Linked DNA regions of Homo sapiens: region 1 is linked to region 2. The links come from fine-mapping of genetic effects on gene expression. A gene starts in region 2. The other region holds a variant in brackets. All regions are shown on one strand. Distances are between the middles of the regions.

Region 1 (11,047 bases), 77 kb after region 2:
AAGAACTGAGGTTGCTGCAGACCCGTATGGATTCACCTTAGGTAACTCAGATACCTTCTTCCCCTAACAGGAGCAGTCCCAGAGATGCTAGAAGACAAAGTGGTCTCTGTTGGCCCAAGTCTGGTAGTAAAGAACAAAGCAAGCAGCAGATCTCTTCAGATGCACCTAAATAAAGCCTTTGAGATTCCTGGTCCCCTTCAACCCACTTCAGGATTTCACTTTGGCTTCTTGGGTCCATGAAGAATCTCAGGATACCAAAATCAGCCTCTCTCCTCTTCCCTCCTCGGATCGCAAGCCCAGGGCCTAACTGACAACACTCATAAAGCACCCCCTACCAGTTCTCCCTTCAGGCCCTCAAGCAACCAGTTTCTCTTGGGTGAGTACCTAAGACTGAAATGTCTGGGCTATAGGATAAATATATGTTGAACTTCCTAAGAATTGCCAAGTTTTTTTTCCAAAGTGGTTTAATCAGTTTACATTCCCAGCATCAGCGTCCCCATTGTTCCACAACTTCACCAACATTCATTCTTTCTCACCTTTTCTATTTTAGCCATTTAGTGTTTCTGAGTGGAATTTTGGGATTTTGGTTTGCATTTCCCTGATGACTAAAGATGCTGAGCATCACCTCATGTGTTTATGGTACATTTGTACACCTTGTTTTGTGAAGTTTATTTATAATAATTCATAATAAAATCCATTTTCTATTTTGAAGATTGTTCTTCTTTTTCATTTTATGTATTTGTGCTATTCTTCTCAACTCTTTAAAAAAATAGATTTGCTCCTGTTTCTGTTTTGTTTGGCGTTGTTGTTTTGTTGTTGATGTGTTTCAAACAACCTGGTATGTTACTGTTTGGCAGGGTTGTCTCCTAATAGACTGCAAACCCCTTGAGGGCAAAAGGTAGACTTCTTTATCTGCCCTTCCAGATCAGCCAGAAAAGTTCCTAGAACATAGTAAATGCTCGGTAAATGTTCCTTGTGTCAGTATTGACAGACAATGACTTCCTATTACAGCTCATTGCTGACTCTAGCCCAGCAAGGGGATTGTACTAACTAGGCCCATGCCATTATCTAGGCTCCTGTAGTGTCAGGGGCATGATTACATCATAAAAATTACAACTTTGAGGTTATCTTTCATAGTTCTAGCATCCTCATTATACTAGACTCAATGACCAGAACTGTGCATATTCATCTTGGCTCACTGCTCATACAGTACCTGGATACTTTAGGAATTCAGTTCTTAATTGTGTTTTGTTTTTTAGAGACAAGGTCTTGCTCTGTCACCTACTCTGGAGTACAGTGGCACAATCAAAGCTCACTGCAGCCTTGAACTCCTGGAATCCAGTGATCCTCAGCCTCCTAAGTAGCTAGAACTATATGAGTGTACCACCATGCCAAGCTCATTTTTTTTTCTAGAGATGGGGTCTCACTATGTTGGCCAGGCAGGTCTCGAGCTCCTAACCTCAGGCAATCCTCCCACTTGGGCCTCCCAAAGCATGGCTTGCCAGTTCCTAATTTTTGAACCAAGTCTGCAGCACTGTAGGTAGAGAGGGGAAGCCAGAAGCCATAGTTTATTATCTGAGAAATGTATACTATAAGAAATTTTGGAAAAATACAACCGATGTATCATTTTCCTGAGTTAGCATGGATTGGAAAGGGTAAGCCTATAAGCAGAGACCAGTTAGAAGTCTGGTGTGATCATCCAGGTGACAGAGGATAAATCCTAAACCAGTCCCTTGGGGCTTTGGGACACTTGTGGATAAGCAGAAACTACATCCAACATCTGAGCAAAATGGAGGAGCTTGTACTAACCTTCCAATCAATAGTAAACATAGAAGCTAGGTAAAATACTTAAAGCAACCAAAGTTGTTAAAGAAAAAAACAATCCAAGTGGGACTTGAAGGGAAGATTGCTGGAAAGAATGTACACTAGTGCAGCTATGCAAGCTGCATTTGCCTCTGCTTTTGCCCTCAGAGCATTTGCTAAGTCCTGGCATGTGCAACAAAGACCAAGTTGAAAGGTAGTGGGAGCTTGTAGCATTCTCAGTGTCAGGCCTCTGAGCCCAAGCTAAGCCATCATATCCCCTGTGACCTGCATGTATACATCCAGAGGGCCTGAAGCAACTGAAGAATCACAAAAGAAGTGATATTTAAATGGCCTCTTCCTGCCTTAACTGATGACATTCCACCACAAAAGAAAACAAAATGGCCTGTCCTTGCCTTAACTGATGACATTACTTTGTGAAATTCCTTCTCCTGGCTCATCCTGGCTCAAAAACTCCCCCACTGAGCACCTTGTGAGCCCCCACTCCTGCCCACCAGAGAACAACCCCCTTTTTCCTTTACCTACCCAAATCTTATAAAACGGCCCCACCCCTATCTCCCTTCGCTGACACTCTTTTCGGACTCAGCCTGCCTGCACCCAGGTGAAATAACCAGCCTTGTTGCTCACGCAAAGCCTGTTTGGTGGTCTCTTCACACAGACGTGAATGAAATTTTGGTGCCATGACTCGGATCAGGGGACCTCCCTTGGGAGATCAATCCCGTGTCCTCCTGCCTTTCACTCTGTGAGAAAGATCCACTTACGACCTCATGTCCTCAGACCAACTAGCCCAAGGAACATCACACCAATTTTCAATCAGGTAAGTGGCCTCTTTTTACTCTCTTCTCCAACCTCTCTCACTATCCCTCAACTTCTTGCTCCTTTCAATCTTGGCACCACACTTCAATCTCTCCCTTCTCTTAATTTCAGTTTCTTTACTTTTCTCCTACAGACAGGAGATGAGTTTTATCCGTGGACCCAAAACTTCAGCGCCGGTCATGGACTCGGGAAGACAGTCTTCCCTTGGTGTTTAATCACACGGGGACACCTGATTATTCATCCACGTTTCAGAGGTGTCTGACCACACAGGGATGCCTGCCTTGGTCTTTCGCCCTTAGTGGCAAGTACCACTTTTCTGGGGGGCAAGAACCCCCCACCCCTTCTCTCCGTGTCTCTACCCCTTCTCCGCTTTTCTGGAGGGCAAGAACCCCCCACCCCTTCTCTCCGTGTCTCTACCCCTTCTCTGCTTTTCTGGGTGGCAAAAACCCCCCAACCCCTTCTCTCCATGTCTCTACCCCTTCTCCACTTTCCTGGGTGCAAGCACCCCCCACCCCTTCTCTCCATGTCTCTACTCTCTCTTTTCTCTGGGCTTGCCTCCTTCACTATGGGCAGCCTTTCACCCTCCATTCCTCCTTCTTCTCCCTTAGCCTGTGTTCTCAAGAACTTAAAACCTCTTCAACTCACACCTGACCTAAACCTAAATGCCTTATTTTATTCTACAATGCCGCCTGACCCCAATACAAACTCAACAGTGTTTCCAAATAGCCAGAAAACAGCACTTTCGATTTTTCCATCCTACAAGATCTACATAATTCTTACCGTAAAATAGGCAAATGATCTGAGGTGCCTGATGTCCAGGCATTCTTTTACACATTGTTCCTTCCCTAGTCTCTGTTCCCAGTGTGACTCATCCCAAATACTCCTTCTTTCCCTCCCTCCTGTCCTCTCAGTCCCAATCCCAAGCATAGTTGAGTCTTTCTAATCTTCCTTTTCTACAGACCCATCTGACTTCTCCCCTCCTCCCCAGGCTGCTCCTCGCCAGGCCAAGCCAGGTCCCCATTCTTCCTCAGCCTCCACTCCTCCACCCTGTAATCCTTCTATCACCTCCCCTCTTCACACCCAGTCCAGCTTACAGTTTAGTTCCGTGACTAGCTCTTCCCCACCTGCCCAACAATTTCCTCTTAGAGAAGTGGCTGCAGCTGAAGGCATAGTCAGGGTACATGTACCTTTTTCTCTATCAGACCTCTCTCAGATCAGTCAGCGTTTAGGCTCTTTCTCATCAGACCCCACTAAATACATACAGGAATTCCAATATCTTACTCTGTCCTACAATTTAACCTGGAGTGACTTAAATGTCATCCTGACTTCTACCCTCTCCCCAGGTGAACGAGAATGAGTTTTTTCTCTAGCCCAATCTCATGCTGATAACCACCGGCTTCATGAGCCAGACCTCCAGGAAGGTATTAGAGCAGTTCCTCGAGAGGATCCCCAATGGAACTATCAGGCAGATTCCCCAGGTATAGCTAGGTGAGATTACATGATTTCCCGCCTAATTGAACGGCTTTAAAAGGCAGCTTACAAAGCTGTTAATTATGACAAGCTGAAAGAAACTACCCAAGGTAAAGATGAAAACCCAGCCCAGTACATGGCCCACTTAGCAGTGACCCTTAGACGCTTTACTGCCCTAGACCCAGAAGGGCCAGAGGGCCGCCTTATTCTTAATATGCATTTTATCACCCAGTCCACTCCCAACATTAGGAAAAAACTTCAAAAATTAAATTCCGGCCCTCAAACCCCACAACAGGATCTAATTAACCTCGCCTTCCAGGTGTACAATAATAGAGTAGAGGCAGCCAAGTAGCAACATATTTCTGAGTTGCAATTCCTTGCCTCCACTGTGAGCGAAACCCCAGCCACATCTCCAGCACACAAGAACTCCAAATGCCTGAACTGCTGCTGCCGGGGGTTCCTCCAGAACCTCCTCCCCCAGGAGCTTGCTACAAGTGCTGGAAATCTGGCCACTAGGCCAAGGAATGCCCACATCCCAGGATTCCTCCTAAGCCGTGTCCCATCTGTGCGAGACCCCAGTGAAAATCAAACTGTTCAACTCACCTGGCAGCCACTTCCAGAACCCCTGGAACTCTGGCCCAAGGCTCTCTGACTCCTTCCCAGATCTTCTCGGCTTAGCAGCTGAAGACTGACATTGCCCGATCACCTCGGAAGCCTACAGGACCATCACAGATGCTCTGGGTAACTCTCACAATGGAAGGTAAGTCCATCCCCTTCTTAATCAATAAGGAGGCTACCCACTCCACATTACCTTCTTTTCAAGAGCCTGTCTCCCTTGCCTCCATAACTGTTGCAGGTATTGACTGCCAGGCCTCTAAACCTCTTAAAACTCCCCAACTCTGGTGCCAACTTAGACAATA[C/G]TCTTTTAAGCACTCCTTTTTCATTATCCCCACCTGCCCAGCTCCCTTATTAGGCCGAGACATTTTAATTAAATTATCTGCTTCCCTGTCTATTCCTGGGCTACATCTCATTGCCGCCCTTCTTCCCAACCCAAAGCCTCCTTTGTATCTTCCTCTCGTATCCCCCCACCTTAACCCACAAGTATAAGACATCTCTACTCCCTTCCTGGCAACCGATCACATGACCATTACCATCCTATTAAAACCTAATCACCCTTACCCGCCTCAACGCCAATATCCTATCCCACAGCACGCTTTAAAAGGATTAAAGCCTGTTATCACACACCTGCTACAGCATGGACTTTTAAAGCCTATAAACTCCCCTTACAGTTCCCCCATTTCACCTGTCCTAGAACCAGACAAGTCTTTCTTACAGGTTAGTTCAGGATCTGTGCCTTATCAACCAAATTGTTTTGCCTCTCCACCCCGTGGTGCCAAACCCATATACTCTCCTATCCTCAATACCTCCCTCCACAACCCATTATTCTGTCTGGATCTCAAACATGCTTTCTTTACTATCCCTTTGCACCCTTCATCACTTAGACTGACCCTGACACCAATCAGGCTCAGCAAATTACCTGGGCTGTACTGCCACAAGCCTTCACAGACAGCTCCCATTGCTTCAGTCAAGCCCAAATTTCATCCTCATCTGTTACCTATCTCGGCATAATTCTCATAAAAACACACGTGCTCTCCCTGCTGATCATGTCCAACTAATCTCCCAAACCTCAATCCCTTCTACAAAACAACAACTCCTTTCCTTCCTAGGCATGGTTAGTGCAGTCAGAATTCTTACACAAGAGCCAGGACCGCACCCTGTAGCCTTTCTGTCCAAAAAACTTGACCTTACTGTTTTGCCTAGCCCTCATGTCTGCGTGCAGTGGCTGCCACTGCTTTAATAATTTTAGAGGCCCTCAAAACCACAAACTATGCTCAACTCACTCTCTATACTTCTTATAACTTCCAAAACCTATTTTCTTCCTCACACCTGATGCATATACTTTCTGCTTCCCGGCTCCTTCAGCGATACTCACTCTTTGTTGAGTCTCCCACAATTACCATTGTTCCCGGCCCAGACTTCAATCTGGCCTCCCGCATTATTCCGGATACCACACCTGACCCTCATGACTGTATCTCTCTGATCCACCTGACATTCACCCCATTTCCCCATATTTCCTTCTTTCCTGTTCCTCACCCTGATCACGCTTGATTTATTGATGGCAGTTCCACCAGGCCTAATCGCCACACACCAGCAAAGGCAGGCTATGCTATAGAACAAGCCAACAGCCCAACTCTTAGAACCTCTCATTTCCTTTCCATCGTGGAAATCTATCCTCAAGGAAATCACTTCTCAGTGTTCCATCTGCTATTCTACTACTCCTCAGGGATCATTCAGGCCCCCTCCCTTCCCTACACATCAAGCTCGGGGATTTGCCCCCGCCCAGGACTGGCAAATTGGCTTTACTCAACATGCCCCGAGTCAGGAAACTCAGATACCTCTTGGTCTAGGTAGATACTTTCACTGGATAGGTAGAGGCCTTTCTCACAGGGTCTAAGAAGGCCACCGCAGTCATTTCTTCCCTTCTGTCAGACATAATTCCTCAGTTTGGGCTTCCCACCTCTATACAGTCCGATAACGGACCGGCCTTTGTTAGTCAAATCACCCAAGCAGTTTCTCAGGCTCTTAGTGTTCAGTGAACTAATGGTCTTTTAAAAACTCACCTCACCAAGCTCAGTCACCAACTTAAAAAGGAATGGGCAATACTTTTACCACTTGCCCTTCTCAGAATTCAGGCCTGTCCTCAGAATGCTGCAGGGTACAGCCCATTTGAACTGCTCTATAGACGCTCCTTTTTTTTTTTTTTTTTTTTTTTTTTTTTTTTTTTTTTTGAGACGGAGTCTCGCTCTGTCGCCCAGGCCGGACTGCGGACTGCAGTGGCGCAATCTCGGCTCACTGCAAACTCCGCTTCCCGGGTTCACGCCATTCTCCTGCCTCAGCCTCCCGAGTAGCTGGGACTACAGGCGCCCGCCACCGCGCCCGGCTAATTTTTTTTTTTGTATTTTTAGTAGAGACGGGGTAGACGCTCCTTTTTATTAGGCCCCAGTCTCATTCCAGACACCAGACCAACTTGGACTGCGACCGCCCCCGAAAAAAAAAAAAAAAAAAGCTTGTCTTCCCTACTATCTTCTATCTAGTCATACTCCTATTCACCATTCTCAACTACTCATAAATGCCCTGCTCTTGTTTACACTGCCGGTTTACACTGTCTCTCCAAGCCATCACAGCTGATATCTCATGGTGCTATCCCCAAACTGCCATTATTAACTCCCTCCTAAAGTAAATAATCTTTGCTGGCAGGGCTATGCTGAACCTCCTTAGGCACTCTCTAGTTAAATGTCCTGGGTTCTCCCAATTCTTAGTCCTTTAATACCTGTTGTTCTCTCTGTCTTATTCTGCTCTTTTTTCAATTCATACAAAGCCATATCCAGGCCATCACCAATAATTCTATACGAAAAATGTTTCTTCTAACAACCCCACAATATCACCCCTTACCACAAAATCTTCCTTCAGCTTACTCTCTCCCACTCGAGGTTCCCACGCTGCCCCTAATCAAAGCATCCCTGAGAAACATCGCCCATTATCTATCCATACCACCCCCCAAAATTTTCACTGCCCAAACACTTCAACACTATTATATTTTATTTTTCTTATTAATATAAGAAGACAGGAATGTCAGGCCTCCGAGCCCAAGCTAAGCCATCATATCCCCTGTGACCTGCTTGTATACATCCAGAGGGCCTGAAGCTACTAAAGAATCACAAAAGAAGTGATATTTAAATGGCCTGTTCCTGCCTTAACTGATGACATTCCACCATAACAGAAGTGAAAATGGCTGGTCCTCACCTTAACTGATGACATTACTTTGTGAAATTCCTTCTCCTGCTTCATCCTGGCTCAAAAACTCCCCCACTGAGCGCCTTGTGACCCCCCACTCCTGCCCACCAGAGAACAACCCCCTTTTTCCTTTACCTACCCAAATCTTACAAAACGGCCCCACCCCTATCTCCCTTCGCTGACTCTCTTTCGGACTCAGCCCGCCTGCACCCAGGTGAAATAAACAGCCTTGCTGCTCACGGAAAGCCTGTTTGGTGGTCTCTTCACACGGACGCGAGTGAAACCCAGCAGGCTAGGAATAAAGAAGTTGCAGTTCAGGGATACCATGGAGTCTGAGACCTGAGATAGAAGAGGCAGCCTTAGAGAAAATTGGGCCAAAGTTCAGCGTGCCGATTCCCCTTGAGGAGTTTGCCAATTCCTAAGCTGTGCATGTTCAGGGCAAGATTCTCAGCACCTGAATTGAAAGCAGCAGCTGTGAAGCTAAACAGTTATGCAAAGACTAGCAGTCTGATGGTGCTGGGGAGTCAGAGGCTGGAGGTCAGGGCCTGAGGAGGTAGAGCAACCCTTGTAAATAAACACTGAAACACTAGGAAGCTTTGAAACACTAGAAGGGCTGTACTCTAGGAGTAAGGACAACCCAGAAAAAGATCAACGCTAGCACTAGCAAAAGTTAAGCGTCCTCTCAGATGGATCAAGATCTGCCAGTACCCTTATCTGCCTGAATTCTTTCTAGAGAAACGTAACAGTTTCAGAGAACAGAGTCTCTAGTTTTTTCATATAAAATCACTATCCATTCACACACACCAAGCATGCCAAGAAACTAACAAATAACTAAAAAAAAAAGTGGAAAAAAATAGCGACAGAACCACAGGTGATCTAAACATTGGAACTATGAGGGATTTTAAAATAAAATGATTCTCCAGGTCCTGTTAGAAAATATTGGTTGCATCTTCTGAAAAAGAGATGCCCGCATCTAAGAACTCCAGGAGCTCAAGTAGCTGCCTCTTACCTATTACCACCACAGGCTCAGCAAGAAGATACACAGAGATGTTCCTCCTGAGCAGAATTATTTTTTTTTCTTACATTAAGTTCTAGGGCACATGCGCAAAACGTGCAGGTTTGTTACATATGTATACCTGTGCCGTGTTTGTTTGTTGCACCCATTAACTCATCATTTACATTAGGTATTTCTCCTAATGCTATCGCTCCCCCATCTCCCCACCCCAAGACAGGCCCCAGTGTGTGATGTTCCCCACCCTGTGTCCAAGTGTTCTCATTGTTCAATTCCCACCTATGAGTGAGAACATGTGGTGTTTGGTTTTCTGTCCTTGCAACAGTTGTGAGCAAAGTCTTTAATACTAGCTGAATGTTGGTGCAAACTCTAGATAATGTCATGAACTGAGCTACCAACTGTGAGCTGGGAGGACTCATTTGTATCTCAGACCTGAAGTCTCTATTAAACAGGCCTCTGTGGCCCCTTTTCCTATGGCCTTCATCCAAATATTTATCCTCTAGAGCTTACCATTCTAAAAAGAAAGAAATGATTACCCCATACAAAAGTGGACAAAGGAAAAAAAAAACAGCATTTATTCTCAGTGTATTTTTGCTTAGCCTCTTTCAATAAGCACTACCCCTATAACTACAAGCCGATTGCTGTACATCCTGGGACAGCTCATATTTGAATTGTTTTTCCTCTGCAAATGGAGTGATGAGAGGGGTTCCTTGGACTTGAACTAGAAGTTAGAGTCTTCAACGTACTGATTTCATATATTTGGATATATACACAGTAGTGAGATTGCTGGATCATAGCTAGTTCTATTTTTAATTTTTTTATGACTGTCCATACTGTTTTCCATAATAGTTATACTATCTAACATTCCCACCAACAATGTGCAAGGGTTCCCCTTCTCCCCATTCTCTCCAACACTTTTTATCTTTTGTCTTTTCGTTAATAGTCATTCTAACATGTATGAGGTGATATCTCATTGTGGTTTTAATTTGCATTTCCCTGATGATTAATTTTGTTGACCTTTTTCTTTTCTTCATTTACCTATGGGCCATTTGTATGTCTTATTTGAGAATTGCCTATTTAGGTGCTTTGCCCATTTTTTAAGAAGTTTATTCCCTACTATTGGGTTGTTGGAATTATTTATATATTTTGGCTATTAACCCCTTATCAGATAAAGGTTTGCAAATATTTTCTCCCATTCCATAGATTGCCTTTTTCTTCTGTTATTTCCTGCCTATGCAGAAGTTTTTCTAGTTTCAAATAATTCTGCCAATTTTCATTTTTGTTGCCTATGCTTTTGGATTCTTATTCAAAAAATTGTTGCCCAGACCAATGTCATGAAGCTTTTCCCCCATTTTCTACTAGCTGTTTTAAAGTTTCTAGTCTTACAGTTAAGCCTTTAATCCATTTTGATGTAATTTTTGTATGTAGAGTGAGATAAGGATCTAATTTTATTCTTTTGTTTGTGGATATTGAGTTATCCCAATACCATTTATTAAAGACACTGATTGTCCCCCTTGTCTGTTCTTGCCACCTTTGGCAAAAGTCAATTGACAGTAAATGTGTGGAATTATACCTAGGCTCTTTAGTCTGCTCCATTGGTCTTTGTGTCCTTTTGTTAACGTTAGTACCTTGCTGTTTTAATTACTATAGCTTTATAATATATTTTGTAGTATATTTTGAAGTCAGGTGTTATTATACCTCCAGTTTTGGTTTTTGTATTTTATTTTTCATGTTTTACTTGAGAGTGCTTTGGCTATTCAAGGTCTTATATGGTTCCATAATAATTTTAAGGTTGTGTTTTCTACCTCTGTGAAGAATGTCATTGGTATTTTGATAGGGACTACACTGAATCTGTAGATTGCTTTGGGTAGTGTGGATGTTTTAACAATATTAATTCTCCCAATCCATGAACAGAGGCTATCTTCCCATTTATTTGTGTCTTCTTCAGTTTCCTTCATCAATGTTTTCTAGTTTTCAGTGTACAGGTTTTTCACTTCCTTGGCTAAATATATTCCTAAGTAACTTATTCTTATTAATGCTATCATAAATGAAATTGTGTTCTTGATTTCTTTT
Region 2 (11,012 bases):
TGGGGTGGGGGGGAGGGGGGAGGGATAGCATTTGGAGATATACCTAATGTTAAATGACGAGTTACTGGGTGCAGCACACAAACATGGCACATGTATACATATGTAACTAACCTGCATGTTGTGCATATGTAACCTAAAATTAAAGTATAATTTAAAAAATGAGAGAAGAATTAAATAGATACAATAAAAAATAATAAAGGGGATATCAGCGCTGATCCCACAGAAATACAAACTACCATCAGAGAATATTAATGTGTGATGGGTTATGTTTACTGATTTGTGTATGTTGAACCAACCTTGCATCCCAGGGATGCAGCCAACTTGATCATGGTGGATAAGCTTTTTGATGTGCTGCTGGATTTGGTTTATAAGTATTTTACTAAGGATTTTCTCATTGATGTTCATCAGGGTATTGGCCTGAAATTTTTTTTTTGTTGTTTCTCTGCCAGGTTTTGGTATCAGGATGATGCTGGCCTCACAAAATGAGTTAGGGAGGAGTTCCCCTTTTTCTAATGTTTGGGATAGTTTCAGAAGAATGATACCAGCTCCTCTTTGTACCTCTGGTGTAATTCAGCTGTGACTCCATCTGGTCCTGGGCTTTTTTTGGTTGGTAGGCTACTAATTACTGCCTCAATTTCAGAACTTGTTATTGGTCTATTCAGGGATTCGACTTCTTCCTGGTTTAGTCTTGGGATGGTGTATGTGTCCAGGAATTTATCCATTTCTTGTAGATTTTTTAGTTTATTTGCATAGCGGTGTTTACAATATTCTCTGATAGTACTTTGTATTTCTGTGGGATCAGTGGTGATAGCCCCTTAATCATTTTTTATTGCATCTGTTTGATTCTTCTCTCTTTTCTTCTTTATTAGTCTGGCTAGCAGTTTATCTATTTTGTTAATCTTTTCAAGAAAACCAGCTCCTGGACTCACTGATTTTTTTTGAAGGGTTTTTCATGTCTCTATCTCCTTCAGTTCTTCTCTGATCTTAGTTATTTCTTGCCTCTGCTAGCTTTTGAATTTGTTTGCTCTTGCTTCTCTAGTTATTTTCAATGTGATGTTAAGGTGTCAATTTTAGATCTTTTCTGCTTTCTCCTGTGGGCATTTTAGTGCTATAAATTTGCCTCAAACACTGCTTTAGCTGTGTCCCAGAGATTCTGGTACTTTGTGTCTTTGTTCACATTGGTTTCAAAGAACTTATTTATTTCTGACTTAATTTCATTATTTACCCAGTATTCATTCAGGAGCAGTTTGTTCAGTGTCCATGTAGTTGGGTGGTTTTGAGTGAGTTTCTTAATCCTGAGTACTAATTTGACTGCACTGTGGTCTGAGAGACTGTTATGATTTCCATGCTTTTGCATTTCCTGAGGAGTGTTTTACTTCCAATTATGTGGTAAATTTTAGAATAGTACAATCAATGTGGTGCAGGGAAGAATGTATATTCTCTGATTTGGGGTGGAGAGTTCTGTAGATGTCTATTAGGTCTGCTTGGTCCAGAGCTGAGTACAAGTCCTGAATATCCTTGTTGATTTCCTGTCTCCTTGATCTGTCTAATATTGACAGTGGGGTGTTAAAGTCTCCCACTATCATTGTGTGGGAGTCTAAGTCTTTTTGTAAGTCTCTAAGAACTTGCTTTATGAATCTGGGTGCTCCTGTATTGGGTGCATATATATTAATGATAGCTCTTTTTGTTGCATTGATGCCTTTACCATTATGTAATGCCCTTCTTTTTCTTTTTTGTTCTTTGTTGGTTTAAAGTCTGTTTTGTCAGAGACTAGGATTGCACCCTCTGCTTTTTTTTTTTTTGCTTTCTATTTCCTTGGTAAATATTCCTCCATCCCTTTATTTTGAGCCTATGTGTGTCGTCGCACATGAGATGGGTCTCCTGAATACAGCACACCAATGGTTCTTGACTCTTTATCCAATTTGTCAGTCTGTGTCTTTTAATTGGGGCATTTAGCCTGTTTACATTGAAGGTTAATATTGATCTGTGTGAATTTGATCCCGTCATTATGATGCTAGCTGGGTATTTTGCCTGTTAGTTGAGGCAGTTTCTTCATAGTGTCAATGGTCTTTACAATTTGGTATATTTTTGCAGTGGCTGGTACCAGCTTTTCCTTTTCATATTTAGAGCTTCCTTCAGGAGCTCTTGTAAGGCAGGCCTGGTGGTGACAAAAATCTCTCAGCATTTGCTTGTCTATAAAGGTTTGTATTTCTTCTTTGCTTCTGAAGCTTAGTTTGGCTGGATATGAAATTCTGGGCTGAAAATTCTTTTCTTTAAGAATGTTGATATTGGCACCCACTCTCTTCTGGCTTGTAGGGTTTCTGCAGAGAGATCCGCTGTTAGTCTGTTGGGCTTCCCTGTGTGGACAGACACTTCTCTCTGGCTGCCCTTAACATTTTTTCCTTCATTTCAACCTTGGTGAATCTGACTATTGTGTCTTAAGATTGCTCTTCTTGATGAGTATCTTTGTGGTGTTCTCTGTATTTCCCAAATTTGAATGTTGGCCTGTCTTGCTAGGTTGGGGAAGTTCTCCTGGACAGTATCATGAAGACTGTTTTCCAACTTGGTTCCATTCTCCCTGTCACTTTCAGGTACACCAATCAAATGGAGGTTTGGTCTTTTCACATAGTCCATATTTCTTGGAGGTTTTGCTTGTTCCTTTTCATTCTTTTTTCTCTAATCTTGTCTTGATGCTTTATTTCATTAAGTTGATCTTCAATCTCTGATATCCTTTCTTCCTCTTGATCAATTCGGCTATTGATTCTTGTGTATGCTTCATGAAGTTCTCATGCTATGTTTTTCAACTCCATCAGGTCATTTATCTTCTTCTCTAAACTGATGATTCTAGTTAGCAATTCCTCTAACCTTTTTTCAAGTTTCTTAGCTTCCTTGCATTGGGTTAGAACATGCTCCTTTAGCACAGAGGAGTTTCTTATTACCCACCTTCTGAAGCCTACTTCTGTCAATTCATCAAACTCATTTTCCATCCAGTTTTGTTCCCTTGCTGGCAAGGAGTTGTGATTCTTTGCAGGAGAAGAGGTGTGCTGTTTTTTGGAATTTTCAGCCTTTTTGCACTGGTTTTTCCTCATCTTCATGGATTTATCTACCTTTGGTCTTTGATATTGGTGACCTCTGGATGGGGTTTTTGTGTGGACATTCTTTTTGTTGAGGTTGACGCTATTGCTTTCTGTTTGTTAGTTTTCCTTCTAACAGGTCCCTCTGCTACAGGTCTGCTGGAGGTCCACTCCAGACCCTGTTTGCCTGGGTATCACCAGCAGAGGCTGCAGAACAGCAAAGATTGCTGCCTGTTCCTTCCTCTGGAAGCTTTGTCCCAGAGGGGCACCCGCCAGATGCCAACCAGAGCTCTCCTGTATGAGGTGTCTGTTGACCCCTCCTGGGAAGTGTCTCCCAGTCTGGAGGCACAGGGGTCAGGGACCCACTTGAGGAGGCAGTCTGTGCCTTATCAGAGCTCAAGCACTGTCCTGGGAGATCCACTGCTCTCTTCAGAGCTGGCAAGCAAGAATGTTTAAGGCTGTTGAAGCTGTGCTCACCGCCACCCCTTCCCCCAGATGCTCTGTCCCAGGGAGATGGGAGTTTTAGCTATAAGCCCCTGACTGGGGCTGCTGCCTTTCTTTCAAGATGTCATGCCCAGAGAGGAGGAATCTAGAGAGGCAGTCTGGCTACAGCAGGTTTGCGAAGCTTTGGTGGGCTCCACCCAATTCGAACTTCCCAGCAGTTTTGTTTACACTGTGAGGGGAAAACCGCCTACTCAAGCCTCAGTAATGGTGGATGCCCCTCACTCCACCAAGCTCAAGCATCTCAGGTCAATTTCAGATTGCTGCACTGGCAGCAAGAATTTCAAACCCGTGGATCTTAGCTTGCTGGGCTCCATGGGGGTGGGATCCACTGAGCTAGACCACTTGGCTCCCTGGCTTCAGCCCCCTTTCCAAGGGAGTGAACAGTTCTGTCTTGCTGGTGTTCCAGACGCCACTGGGGCATGAAAAATCCTGCCGCTAGCTCAGTGTCTGCCCAAACAGCCACCCAGTTTTGTGCTTCAAACCCAGGGTCCTGGTGGTGTAGGCATCCAAGGGAATCTCCTGGTCCGTGGGTTGCATAGACCATGGGAAAAGCATAGTATCTGGGCTGGATAGCACCATTCCATCAGGTCCTTTAAGGACTTCTCTGCATTGGTTATTCTGACCTAAAACCACAAAAACCCTAGAAGAAAACCTAGGCAATACCATTCAGGACATAGGCATGGGCAAGGACTACATGTCTTAAACACCAAAAGCAATGGCAACAAAAGACAAAATTGACAAATGGGATCTAATTAAAGAGCTTCTGCACAGCAAAAGAAACTACCATCAGAGTGAATGGGCAACCTATAGAATAGGAGAAAAATTTTGCAATTTACTCATCTGACAAAGGGCTAATATCCAGAATCTACAAAGATCTCAAACAAATTTACAAGAAAAAAACAACCCCATCAAAAAGTGGGCAAAGGATATGAACAGACACTTCTCAAAAGAAGATATTTATGCAGCCAACAGACACATGGAAAAATGCTCATCATCACTGGCCATCAGAGAAATGCAAATCAAAACCACAATGAGATACTATCTCACAGCAGTTAGAATGGCGATCATTAAAAAGTCAGGAAACAATGGGTGATAGACAGGATATGGAGAAACAGGAGCACTTTTACACTGTTGGTGGGACTGTCAACGAGTTCATCCATTGTGGAAGACAGTATGGTGATTCCTCAAGGATCTAGAACTAGAAATACCATTTGACCCAGCCATCCCATTACTGGGTATATATCCAAAAGATTATAAATCATACTGATATAAAGACACATGCACACATATGTTTATTGTGGCACTATTCACAATAGCAAAGACTTGGAACCAACCCAAATGTCCAACAATGATAGACTGGATGAAGAAAATGTGGCACATATACACCATGGAATGCTATGCAGCCATAAAAAAGGATGAGCTCATGTCCTTTGTAGGGACATGGATGAAAGTGGAAACCATCATTCTCAGAAAACTATTGCAAGGACAAGAAAACCAAACACCGCATGTTCTCACTCATAGGTGGGAATTGAACAATGAGAACACATGGACACAGGAAGGGGAACATCACACACTGAGGCCTGTCCTGGGGTGGGGGGAGGGGGGAGGGATAGCATCAGGAGATATATCCAATGTAAATGAGTTAATGGGTGCAGCACACCAACATGGCACGTGTATACATATGTAACAAACCTGCATGTTGTGCACATGTACCCTAGAACTTAAAGTATAATTTAAAAAAAAATCTAAGGCCTCAAACTATGAAACTACTACAAGAAAATATTGGGGAAACTCTCCAGGACATTGGACTGGGCAAAAATTTCTTTCAAATATTCCATAAGCACAGGCAACCAAAGCAAAACTGGACAAATGAGATCACATCAAGTTAAAAAGCTTCTGCACAGCAAAGGAAACAATGAAGTAGAGAGATAACCCACAGAATTGGAGTAAATATTTGCAAACTATCCATCTGACAAGGGATTAATAACCAGAATATACAAAGAACTCAAACAACTCTATAGGAAAAAAATATAATAATCTGATTCAAAAATGGACAAACGATCTGAATAGACATTCCTCAGAAGAAGACATACAAGTGGCAAATGGATATATGAAAATGTGTTCAACACCACTGATCATCAGAGAAATGCAAATCAAAACTACGAGATATTATCTCACCTCAGTTAAAATGTCTTTTAACCAAAAGAAAGGCAATAACAAATGCTGGCAAGGATATGTAGAAAAGGGAACCCTCATACACTGTCAATGGGAATGGAAATTAGTACAAACACTATGGCAAACAATTTGAAGGTTCCTCAAAAAAAAAAAAAAACCTGAAAATAGAGCTACCATGTAATCTAGCAATCCTACTGGATACTGCTAGGTATATACCCAGAAGAAATACTGTTAGGTATATATCCAAGAGAAAGGAAATCAGTATATCAAAGAGATATCTGCACTCCCATGTTTATCGCAGCACTATTCACAATAGCCAAGATTTGGAAGCAACGTAAGTGTCCATCAACAGATAAATGGATAAGGAAAGTGTGGTACACATACACAATGGAGCACTATTCAGCCATAAAAAGAAGGAGAACCTTTCATTTGCTACAAGATGGATGGAATTGGGGATTATTATGTTAAGTAAAATAAACCAAACACAGGCAAACAAACAAATTGTTATGTTCTCACTTATTTGTGGGAGTTAAAAATTAAAACAATCCAACTCATGAAGATAGAGAGGATGATGGTTACCAAAGGCTGGGAAGGGTAGTGGGGAATGATTAATGGGTTCAAAAATACATGAGAGAGAATGAATAAGATCTAGTATTTTATAGCATAACAAGGTGAATACAGTCAATGATAATTTATCATTTTAAAATAACTAAAAGCATATAACTGGATTGTATATAACACAAATGATAAGTGCTTGAGGTGATGGATAGATACCCCACTTACCCTGATATGATTATTACGGATTGTATGCTCTACCTGTATCAAAATATTTCATGTACCCCACAAATATATACACCTACTATAGACACACAAGATTGAAAATTAAAAAAATTACTTTGGTAAATTTTATGTTCTATATTTTTACGATTAAAAATAAAAATAATATAACCTGAGAATGTCCCTAGCTCAGTGACAAGAACACAGTTGGTTGTCAAATGTCAATTTCCTTCTCACCACTCACTGGTGGGACACTCACCTTGGGGTCATGCGAAATAAATCACTCACCTGCAGGCGTTAAAAAATATTAGTCACATCAGTCACATGAAAATAATTAGCTTCTGGAAGTAAGCAGATGGTGGCACGCGAGGAAGAGCACCGGCCACTCTTCTCTGCATCAAAACTTCCTTAAAAGCATCTTCCAGACATGGACATAGCGTCTAGGTGTGGAGTGATGACCAGTGTCAAAGAAAGCAGCCCGGACTCCCCCGTCTTGTAGATATTTTACCAAATCAGATAATGAAGACATGGGAGGGAGCGCGCAACCAGGACCACGGGCTACTGAGTTTCCACTCCTTCCCAGTCTCAGAGAAGCCTCCTGGGCATGCAGAGCCTCTGAAGCCTCCCCCAGCTCAACTCTGACTTCTCTTCTCAGCCGCATTTCTCCACACACCCTTTCAAGGCTCTGCTCCTCCCACTGCTCCTCCCTCACTCCTCCCACGGCTCCTCCTCCTCCCTCCCCTTTCCTCTCAGACTTGCTTCTGAGCGGAAACTGAAAGTGAAATAGGGAGCTGGCTACCAGCGTTGAGTCCCCTGTAAAGGTGAGTGAACCCCACTAGATCAAGGGACCCCTGCCCTCCTAGGGGACCTCTCTCCCCTGCCCCAGGGTTGCAGAGCCCCTTCCAGTCTCCATCCTTGAGCCGGTCCCATTTGCCCCTTCTCCCACCAGGGATCCCTCAACCCAAGACCAGCTGCGCTTCCGGTGCTGGCCCCCTGCTTGGGAGGAGGCTGGGGTGTGGACCTGACTGCCGAGTTACCCAGAAGGGGAAGGGGCCCGGCTGCCCCCTACCTGGGAGGAGGCTGGGTTGTGGACGTGACTGTGGAGTTACCCAGAAGGGGAAGGGGCCCGGCTGCCCCCATGCTGGCACCTGACCTAGGATGACGGCTGGGTGTGGCTGGGATAGCCAGGACTACAGCCTAGCCAGGAGGGTAGGGAGCCCAGTGTCGGGGAGGTCTGCAATTCTGGAGACTCCCAGGTCCAAAAGTCCTCCAGAGGTGAGAGGGGCAGGCTGTTTAGGATGTTCAACCAGAAATGTATAGGCCTTCAGAATTATTCTTTGTCCTAGAATAAGTGTTGTCAGGAACTAAACTAAGTTTGGAGCAGCTGAGAAAAGAGCCCAGGGAGTGCTGGCCACGGTTCCTGTTACTCTGTGTGTATACATACATATACACCTACATACATATATGCAACTGACTTCCGCCGTTATAGGAGGGATTAATGAAGATATATTCAAAGCATGAAGTATCTCTGGCACATGGAAGGTACATGGTAAAAAGTAGCTATAATTTCTCAGCAACATGGAGGCCTGTTGGTACCCGACAGGAGATGGATGAGCACTGAGGGTTTAAGCAGGAATGGACATGATGAGAGTAGAACTGTCAACAGCTTTATGAGGTTCTTGCCAATTTTCATTCCCTCTTTTAGGGACTCAGTTTCTCCTTCTGTCTCACTGGATCAATGGACCAAACAATGGAGGAGTTCTTGTTATTCAGAACAGGAATAAACTTATTCAACAAACTGTTTGATCGGTGCAAAAGTAATTACTGTTTTTGACATTAATTGTTTTGCCATTAATTTTATGCCTTGTTTTGTTTTGTTTTGTTTTTGAGAGGGAGTCTCGCCGTGTCACCCAGGCTGGAGTGCAATGGCACAATCTTGGCTCACTGCAACCTCTGCCTCCCAGGTTCAAGCAATTCTCCTGCCTCAGCCTCCCAAGTAGCTGGGATTACAGGTGCCCACCACCACTCCCAGCTAATTTTTGTATTTTTAGTAGAGACAGGGTTTTACCATATTGGTCAGGCTGGTCTTGAACTCCTGACCTAAGGTGATCCACCCACCTCGGCCTCCCAAAGTGCTGGGATTACAGGTGTGAGCCACCGTGCCTGACCCATTATTTTTATTCTTATTTTTTATTTTCCTTTGCATCATTTTGTTTTTCTTTTTTTAGTATATTTTTAATTTTTGTGGGCACATAGTAGGTATATTTATGGGTATATGGAATATTGTGATACAGGTATACAATGTGTAATAATCACATCAGGGTAAGTGGGGCATCTATCACCTCAAGCATTGATCATCTGTAATACAAACTATGCAATTATACTCTTATTTTTAATGTACAATTAAATTATTGACTATAGTCACCCTGTTGTACTATCAAATACTAGATCTAATTCACTCCACTTTTGTACCCATTAACCATCCCATCTTCTCCCCCACACACAGACCCTCCCTATTACTCTTCCCAGCCTCTGGTAACCATCTTTCTATTATCTAACTCCATGAGTTCAATTGTTTTAATTTTTAGCTTCTACAAATGAGTGAGACCATACAATGTTTGTGTTTCTGTGCCTGGCTTATTTCACCTAACATAATGACCTCCAGTTCCATTCATGTTGTTGTGAATGACAGGATCTCATTATATTTTATGACTGAACAGTACTCCATTGTGTATACATACCACATTTTCTTTATCCATATATCTGTTGATGGACTCTTAGATTGCTTCCAAATCTTGGCTATTGTGAAACGTGCTGCAGTAAACATGGAAGTGTGGATATCTCTTTGATATACTGATTTCCTTTCTTTGGGGTATATGCTAGCAGTGGGATTGATGGATCATATGGTAGCTCTATCTTCAGTATTTTGAAGAACCTCCAAACTGTTCTCTGTAGTGATTGTACTAATTTACCTTCCCACCAACAGCATATGAGTGTACCCTTTTCTCCACACCCTCACCAGCATTTGTTATAGCCTGTCTTTTGGAGAAAAGACATTTTAACTGAGATGAGATTATATCTCATTGTAGTTTTGATTTGCATTTTTCTGATAATCAATGATGTTGAGCAACTGTTCATATGCCTGTTTGTCATTTGTATGACTTCTTTTGAGAAATGTCTGTTCAGATCTTTTGTCCATTTTTGAGTCAGATTATTATTTTTTTTCCTATAGAGTTGTTTGAGCTCCTTATATATTCTGGTTATTCATCCCTTGTCAGATGGATAGTTTACAAATATTTACTCCAATTCTGTGGGCTGTCTCTTCACTTTGTGGATTGTTTCTTTTGCTGTGCAGCACCTTTTCAACATGATGTGATCCCATTTGTCCAAGTTTGCTTTGGCTGCCTGTGCTTGTGGGATATTTGAAAGAAATCTTTGCCCAGTCCAATGTCCTAGAGAGTTTTCCCAATGTTTTCTTATAATAGTTTCATAGTTTGAGGCCTTAGATTTAAGTCTTTAATCCATTTTGATTTGATTTCTGTATACGGTGAGACATAGGAGTGTAGTTTCATTCTTCTGCATGTGGATATCCAGTTTTCCCAGCAGCATTTATTGAAGAGACTGTCCTTTCCTCACTGTATGTTCTTGGTAGCTTTGTTGAAAATGTGCTCACTGTGGATGTACAGATTTGTTTCTGGGTTCTTTATTCTACTGGTCTATGTGTCTGTTTTTATGCCAGTACCATGCTGTTTGGGTTACTTTAGCTCTACAGTATAATTTGACGTCAGATGATGTGATTCCTCCAGTTTTGTTCTTTTTGCTCAGGATAGCTTTGGCTATTCTGAGTCTTTTGTGATTCCATATAAATTTTAGGATTGTTTTTTCCTATTTTTGTGAAGAATGTCATTGGTATTTTGATAGGGATTATGTTGACTTTTTGTTTTTCTTACACAGACTTTCTCATATTCTCTTTTCCCTTTCTTCTTCTCTCCCAGCCAAACCCCCTAAAGGTCTCCACACTGCTGTTTAACGGCACACTTGACAATGGCTTCAGCAGCACGCTTGACAATGATGTGGGAGGAGGTCACATGCCCTATCTGCCTGGACCCCTTCGTGGAGCCTGTGAGCATCGAGTGTGGCCACAGCTTCTGCCAGGAATGCATCTCTCAGGTTGGGAAAGGTGGGGGCAGCGTCTGTCCTGTGTGCCGGCAGCGCTTTCTGCTCAAGAATCTCCGGCCCAATCGACAGCTAGCCAACATGGTGAACAACCTTAAAGAAATCAGCCAGGAGGCCAGAGAGGGCACACAGGGGGAACGGTGTGCAGTGCATGGAGAGAGACTTCACCTGTTCTGTGAGAAAGATGGGAAGGCCCTTTGCTGGGTATGTGCCCAGTCTCGGAAACACCGTGACCACGCCATGGTCCCTCTTGAGGAGGCTGCACAGGAGTACCAGGTGAGGCCTAAGAGACACCTGGTGAGTGCT

The links. PIP is the estimated chance that this variant, and not a neighbour inherited with it, causes the effect. A credible set is the group of variants that fine-mapping cannot tell apart.
Region 1: its variant is the best candidate, but not a certain one, in a credible set for the expression of TRIM21 in whole blood (INTERVAL, PIP 0.81).

What each region holds. Positions count from the first base shown.
Region 1 is chr11:4,312,898-4,323,944 of GRCh38, reverse strand. No RefSeq gene overlaps it. Among named protein-coding and RNA genes, the nearest start is that of SSU72L3, 11 kb to the left of the region's middle. The variant C/G (reference allele first, on the strand shown) is at 5,028.
Region 2 is chr11:4,389,972-4,400,983 of GRCh38, reverse strand. It overlaps TRIM21 (tripartite motif containing 21), which reads left to right and starts at 7,282. Exons shown (of 7, transcript NM_003141.4): 1 at 7,282-7,351; 2 at 10,526-10,982. The coding sequence starts at 10,575. RefSeq lists enhancers at 7,102-7,161, 7,182-7,391.